Linked DNA regions of Homo sapiens. The protein of the gene in region 2 purifies or fractionates together with the protein of the main gene of each other region. This does not show direct contact. Each region holds a gene or a part of one and is shown on either strand. Other genes may lie near its edges.

Evidence for each region. Proteins that work in one complex are often made in the same cells at the same time.
Region 1: the proteins of LSS (region 2) and SAFB2 purify together in Homo sapiens (affinity purification with mass spectrometry; one large-scale study listed by BioGRID and IntAct). This does not show direct contact.

Annotation. Positions count from the first base shown.
Region 1 is NC_000019.10:5,616,277-5,619,925, forward strand, and holds part of SAFB2 (scaffold attachment factor B2), read right to left. Parts: intron 211-3,649; coding exon 146-210; intron 60-145; coding exon 1-59. UniProt on the Homo sapiens protein: Binds to scaffold/matrix attachment region (S/MAR) DNA. Can function as an estrogen receptor corepressor and can also inhibit cell proliferation.
Region 2 is NC_000021.9:46,204,713-46,208,361, reverse strand, and holds part of LSS (lanosterol synthase), read left to right. Parts: intron 1-60; coding exon 61-111; intron 112-784; coding exon 785-934; intron 935-1,593; coding exon 1,594-1,690; intron 1,691-2,420; coding exon 2,421-2,526; intron 2,527-3,649. UniProt on the Homo sapiens protein: Key enzyme in the cholesterol biosynthesis pathway. Catalyzes the cyclization of (S)-2,3 oxidosqualene to lanosterol, a reaction that forms the sterol nucleus.

The DNA of each region.
Region 1 (3,649 bases), on a different chromosome or scaffold from region 2:
ACACTCATGTCCATCATGCCCATATTCTGCAGGTTCTCCAGACTTGCTTCCATGTCCTCCTGTAAAGAGGAAGAAGAATCGTTAACGACCACCTGGACCAGGACAGGGAGCTGCTGCTTGTCATCTCTACCCTGACATCACTTACCTGCCCGTCTCTGGAATCGTCTTCCAGGCCATTATCTTCTGTGCCTTCCTCCTCCATCTTCAGTCCTAATTACAGAATAATTGTTCAATCAGATAACACTCAAGTTCTACCTCATAATTAGTTTATGCAGAATAGATTTCAATCTTAGAACAGAACACATTACAAGATAAACTATAAGTCTCCCCTCTCCTGTCACACGTAATTTTGTCTCAATTTGTTTTCTTTTTTTTTTTTTTTTTTTTTTTTTTGAGATGGAGTCTCCCTGTGTCACCCAGGCTGGAGTGCAGCGGCACAATCTCGGCTCACTGCAATCTCCACCTCCTGGGTTCAAGCGATTCTCCTGCCTCAGCCTCCTCAGCAGCTGGGACTACAGGCGTGCATCACCATGCCCAGCTTATTTTTGTATTTTTAGTAGAGATGGGGTTTCACCATATTGGCCAGGCTGGTCTCAAACTCCTGACCTCGTGATCCACCAGCCTCGGTCTCCCAAAGTGCTGGGATTACAGGCATGAGCCATGGTGCCCGGCCTCAATTGGTGTTCTAAGTAAGCCATCAACAGGGAGATGAAAATCTAGGATTCCTCTTAGATTCAGAGTACTCTGATTTTCCACAAAATATCTAAAAGTTTCCAAATATTTCAAAAACACTCCAAACCTAAGAAAAAAAATCACAAAAAAATGAGCAAAGGATAAAAACAGGCATTTTCAACAAACCAACAAAAAAATGCAATACCCATCTAGTAACCAAAGAACTGCAACATAAAATAACATATTGAGTTAGTGATTTGCTGGCTCTCCCTATATTCCACCCATTTCAAGTAGGTCTTTGTCATTTTTTAGCTCAAGAACTTTTTTTTTTCCCCCAAGGCAAAAAGGCAAAGGCTGCCATAAAGTCGAGAATCATCCTGGGTTTTGTGACCACAAAATAACTATTTGATAGAATTCTGCTAGGAATTGCAAAAGGAGGCCAGAGGAGTTCAAGAGTGGAAACCTTGAGAAGAAACTTGAGGCTCTATATGTATCAAAAACCTTACAAATGTGCATACCCTTTGTTCCAGGAATTTGAGTCTTAGGATATCTGACAAGGAGTTCAAAACATAGATATCTGTCCTATTATACCTGTTAAACACCCAAAAGGGAAACAAATTACAGCATATTTTCATTCAGATATGGTTCACAACCGGGGGGAATGGCTGGCAATGTCTGGAGACATTGTTAGTGGTCATGACCTGGGGGAACGCCATTAGCATCAGTAGCTAGTGATGCTGGTCACGACCCTGCAATGCACAGGATACTCCCCAACCCCAGAGAATTCTTCGGCCCAAATTGTCAACAGTGCCAATGCTGAGAAACCCTGTGGGACACCATCCAATGTCTCACAATATTTAAAGAATGTATGCTTTTAAAGAATATTTAATGAAACAGAAAAAATGCCCACAGTGTAGGCACAGTGGTTCACGCCTGTAATCCCAGCATTTTGGGAGGCTAAGGCAGGTGGCTCGCTTGAGCCTAGGAATTAAGAGACAAGTTCGGGCAACAAAGTGAGACCCCCATCTCCACCAAAAATACAAAAATTAGCCAGGCATGGTGTTATGTACCTGTACTCTGAATTACCGGTGAGAATGAGGTGGGAGGATGCTCCGAGCCTGAGAGCTTGAGGCTGCCACGATCATGCCACTGCCCTCCGCTCTGGGCAACAGAGTAAGACCGAGTCTCTCTAACATACACACCGATAAAGAAAAATCAAACAGAAAAAAATACATACTTTCCCGTCTCTACTAAAAATAGAAAAACAGCCGGACGTGGTGGCGGGCGCCTGTAGTCTCAGCTACTCGGGAGGCTGAGGCAGGAGAATGGCCTGAAGCCGGGAGGCGGAGCTTGCAGTGAGCCGAGATTGCACCACTGTACTCCAGCCTGGGCAACAGAGCGAGACTCCGTCTCAAAAAAAAAAGAAAGAAAATTAAACATAAAAAACCTGCAGGGTCTACACCTCAAGAGTCTCACTCACCACTATTATCAATAATCACTCAAGAAATGCAGTTTAATTGCATGTCTCGCAACGTGAGCTTTTTCCAGTCTATCATTTAAGACGCCTAACAACGCTAGCAGGTTTTATTATCTGCATTTGACACGAGAATTTGGTTGAGCTCCAAAGCTGGCACTCTAAAACTCAGCTGTCCCACTTCGCATTATATCTAAACACAGCATATCCTTTTGAAATACGTTGTCTAAAAATGTTTGGTAATTGCACCCAATTTCTAGGCCCCTAAATAGTAGCCTGCAGTGCCCACATAGGCCGGAAATAGGAGAAATGCTGACCAAAAAGCATCACAGAAAAGCTAATGTGGCGCAGACAGGCGACGCCCCAATCCCCGGCACCTGGCATTGGCCAACGAAAAGCTGCCGCTGCTGGGGACACAGATGTAAGAAAATCCAACTTTAATCCCACATGGCATCTAAAACTTAAATTTTTAATCCAAGTTTTATTTTTTCCAAACCCACCTACAATGTTGCCTAGGACTCCTAATCTTGGTGAAGACCCTTACTCTGATTTATAATGAGGACACTTTTCCCTCAACAAGTTTGGCTACTTCAGTTTTTGCAAGGAAGCAGTTACTGGTGAGTTCCCAGAATGAGTCCAACTTTGGACTCAACTGAACACTGCTGCATAGTGCTTGAAACGAAAATTAACTGGTGAATTCCTCCTGATCTAACAGTTGTATGTAATCACAGGCCCTAACTGCAACCACAAAGTCCTAAGGCTCTTGTGCTTTATCCATTAGCCACGTGCCCCGACACCTCTAGAGAACATCACCAGCTCAGGATGGAAGATGAGGCCTGCAGGGCCTGAGCACCACCTGAAGACCTGGGCTCTCTCTGGGCTTGGTTACTTCTCTGAAAAAGGAATGGGAAGGGATCAGAAGCCCTTCTAACCCTCACTAGAGCTGAGGCTACAAAAGTCCTTTTTATAGCAACAGAAGAACTTTATCATCCAAGCTTTCCTGACAAAACACTAACTCCAAGTAGTTTTGAATCCACCTAAGCTTTAATCTAGACATTCAGGCAGGTCTTCAAAGCACTCAGCTAAAGTTTAGTTTTTCTAATGATGCAAAGATCATTAGAAATGATCCCTGCTAGGCCGGGCACAGTGGCTCATGCCTCTAATCCCAGCACTTTGGGAGGCCCAGGCGGGTGGATCACCTGAGGTGAGGAGTTCGAGACCAGCCTGGCCAACATGGATGGTGAAACCACGTTTCTACTAAAAATATAAAAAAGTAGCTGGGCGTGGCGACGGGCACCTGTAATCGCAGCTACTCAGGAGGCTGAGGCACAAGAATCACTTGAACCCGGGAGGCGGAGGTTGCAGTGAGCCAAGACCGCACCACTGCACTCCAGCCTGGGCAACAACAGCAAAACTCCATCGCAAAAAAAAAAAAAAAATCCCTGTTAAATTCCTGCTAAAAGCCAAGGATATTTTGAGTAGTAAGTCTTGAACTTTACAGTT
Region 2 (3,649 bases):
ATGGGGACGTCCCGTGGTGACGTGTTCTCTGCTTCCACATTTGCCCTCGATGCTGCCCAGGTCCCAGATAACCCTCCCGACTACCAGAAGTACTACCGCCAGATGCGCAAGGTATGCGGGAGCCAGCCCCATCCCTGTCCCGTCCCCCAGGGGAGGCCGCCCTCAGCAGGGTGGGTCCTTCCCTCTGAAGGGGGGGCTCCTCCCTGGGGGACTCCTCCCTTGGCGTTTTTGGGTGTCCTGCTGTGGTGGATGCCTGGCCTAGGGGCTCATGCTTCATGTTGCTGAGCTGCCTGGCACATGGAGGCACAGTTGGCTTGCACACACAGCCGTGCCTCAGAGCAGTTCCAGTGGTCACGGCACACACAGGCTTCAGAAGGACAGCCGAAGTGTAGCCAGTGTGTCCGGGGAAGGCAGAGGAAAGAAGTAGACCTCAGAGCCGGTGTGGGCTGTGACCACAGGTGCAGACTGTGAAATTAGGCATGGACCCAGCTGCTGCTGCCTGTTTACAATGGGGGTGGGGGGCACCTGGGCCCCATCCTGTCCGTCGTGAGATCTGCAGGTGTTGAGGGTGTGAGCTGCACCCCTGAGGGTCCCTGTGCTGGAAGCTGGAGGTCTGTCTGGATGTACCCAGCTTGGGGCCCTGGCTGCACCCACACCTTTGGTGGCTGGGCCCCTGCCCTGACCGGGTGCTCTGTGGTGGGGAGGGATGCGTGCGGCTGTGGGGAGGTTCTGAGAACTGGGGTGTGGACACCCCCAGCCTGGAGTCATGGCTTGTGCTCTGCAGGGTGGCTTCTCCTTCAGTACGCTGGACTGCGGCTGGATCGTTTCTGACTGCACGGCTGAGGCCTTGAAGGCTGTGCTGCTCCTGCAGGAGAAGTGTCCCCATGTCACCGAGCACATCCCCAGAGAACGGCTCTGCGATGCTGTGGCTGTGGTAAGGCTGTGGTCCCAGCAGCCCCGTCCATACCTCGTGTCCTGCAGATGAGCTGCGTGCTCACTTCCACTCCTGTGGGCTCCAGCCCAGCACACAGTCCGGCCAGGCCGTAGGAGCTTGTCCTTGGATGGTGTCTATATGTGGAGAACTGTGAGCTCTGGCTGGACCCCTAGGGGCCTTGCTGGGCTGTGTGCACAGGGCCCTGCACTGCGGAGCTGGTGTCCAGCCCAGCCACCGATACTTGGGGGAGCCGGCGTGGCCCCCAAGGTTTCTCTCTGGTGGTTTCCACTGGGTGTCTGAAGAGGGAATTTGTTGGTGTTGGTTTTGGTGCCACATCCTTTCAGCACATCTGGCTTTTGTGTGTGTTTCCCAGTGGAGACCCTGCCCTTTTCTGGCAGCACAGACTTGGTTTCTAAGTCATGGGCACGTGTGGGGGCATGTTCCCTGGTGGCTGTGCATGGAGGCCCTGACAGATGAGGTTGCAGCTGCTGCTTGGGGCACCCGAGGGCTTGGTTAACGTGGAAATCAGCTCTCCGCCCCCTGTTCCTGCCCCATCGGTTGTCAGCCCTAGTGTTGCCTCTAGAGAGTTCCGCTGTGCCCTGGGCGCCTGTGTGTGCTCAGCACATGGGCGAGTTCTAGGGTGCTCTCTGTGATTTCAGCTGCTGAACATGAGAAATCCAGATGGAGGGTTCGCCACCTATGAGACCAAGCGTGGGGGGCACTTGCTGGAGCTGCTGAACCCCTCGGAGGTCTTCGGTGAGTGGTCGGCCAGCACTGCGGCGCGCAAACCCGGGGCTGGCTAGCACTGTGGTACACAAACCTGGGGGCCAGCTTTTCCCCCTTGCCCGAGGCTGCAAGGGCCCAGGTTCACCGGCAGATCTGTCTGGAGCCCTCCCTCAGCCCAGGCTGTTCTGCGCTCCTCCATCCCCCGGGGTGGCAGGATCCTTGTGTTGTGGATAGGAGGGCATCAGGTCAGACCTAGGGGACAGTGGAGGGTTCCAGTGAGATCCACAGCCTGGGCTGGTTCCTGCTCAGTCCACAGGGCTTGTGTTCTGTGGAGGCTGCTGTGTATCCAGAGCGCCTGCAGGGAGGTGTCTTTGGGGACTGTGGGGACTGTGGGGACCCATGCCATGGGCAGTAGGCTGCTGTGTGTGCATGGTTGCCACCGTACTGGTCTTGGGGGAGGATCTCAGCCCTGGTCCACCTCTGGGCACCTCACATACCCGCCTTCCTGGTCCCCTCCACATCACACATGGCTTTTTGGGGTGGGGTCGCAGCTTTCTGCTGTGTTCCCCTCATCTTCGCTCTCAGGTAGCACAGGTGTGTGTCCTGGACCAGCCGGCGTTTGCTCTGGAGGTTGGTCAGGGAGGCAGCGTCCGGGCCCGGGCTCACTGCAACACTCTTGCTTGTTGTGGCTTTGCCTGAGCTGCAGAGCCTGGGCAGCCAGGGTGAAACCCAACACTTGGTTCTTCCCTCCCTTTCCCAGGGGACATCATGATTGACTACACCTATGTGGAGTGCACCTCAGCCGTGATGCAGGCGCTTAAGTATTTCCACAAGCGTTTCCCGGAGCACAGGGCAGCGGAGATCCGGTAAGGAGGGTCTCAGCCATTCAGTGTGGGCGCTGCCAAGTCGGGGGCCAAGACCCAGACGCATCATTCTGTGACACGGCCCTGGTGGCCCATCTCAGAAGCGAAACTCATGGAAACATGCAAGAGGCTTCGGATGTTGTGGAATCCAGTCATATGCCCTAAAGCATACAAAATATCTGTTAGGGGCTCAGAATAGCACAGTTATGATACAAAAATGGATTTTCTCTCTCTTTTAATAATGTTAAGAAGACATCACATACCTGACTCCACCGGTGTCCCAGAAACGGTTTTTAAGTAACCTTTCCTGTTGAAGGGTAGCAAGTATTCAGAAAAGTGTACAGGTTGGTCTTCTTGAAGCAAACAGGAAGCGAACAGTGCCAGCATTAGACATGGTGACACCACCAGAGCCCTCGGCCCGCCCCATGACGGGGCCGCCCACATGCCTGCCAGGTCGTGGGTGTCTGTTGCTCGCTTTGGATCTTGTCTAGGTGGACTCCTGAGGTGTGGAATTCGTGTTGCCTTCTCCTGCTCTCCTGCTCTCCTGCTCGCGGTTAGTCAGGTGGCTCGGGTAACAGCAGCGTTCTCTCCCTCGGGCCTTCGGTTGAACACAGATGCCGCGCTATCCAGCTGCCTGTTCTCAGCACCTGGGAGGATTTCAGTCTGGGTTATTATGAAGCATCTACTGTGAACACTCTTGTACTTATCTTTTGGGGGCACCTGGGTACCCATTTCTCATGGTCACGTACCTAGGAGTGGCATTGCTGTGTTAGAGGGTACGTTATAGGGTATGTGATTTTTGTAGGTTCTTCTTTATCCTATCACGATTACATTTTTTTACTTTTGTTCAACCTGGTGTAGACTCACCTTGGTCACAATGCACTGTCCTTTTTATATATTGCTAGATTCAATTTGAAGAATATTTTGTTAGGATTTTAGCAACTCTGGTTACAAGAGACGCTGGTCTATAATTTTTTTTTCTTTATAATGTTTTTGTCAGGTTTTCCTGTTAAGATGATGCTGGACTTAGAAAAGCAGTTGGAAAATGCTTTTAAAATACTCTTTGGAAGAATTTATGTAATATTCATAATATTTCTGCCTTAAATGTTTGGGAAAAATTACCGGA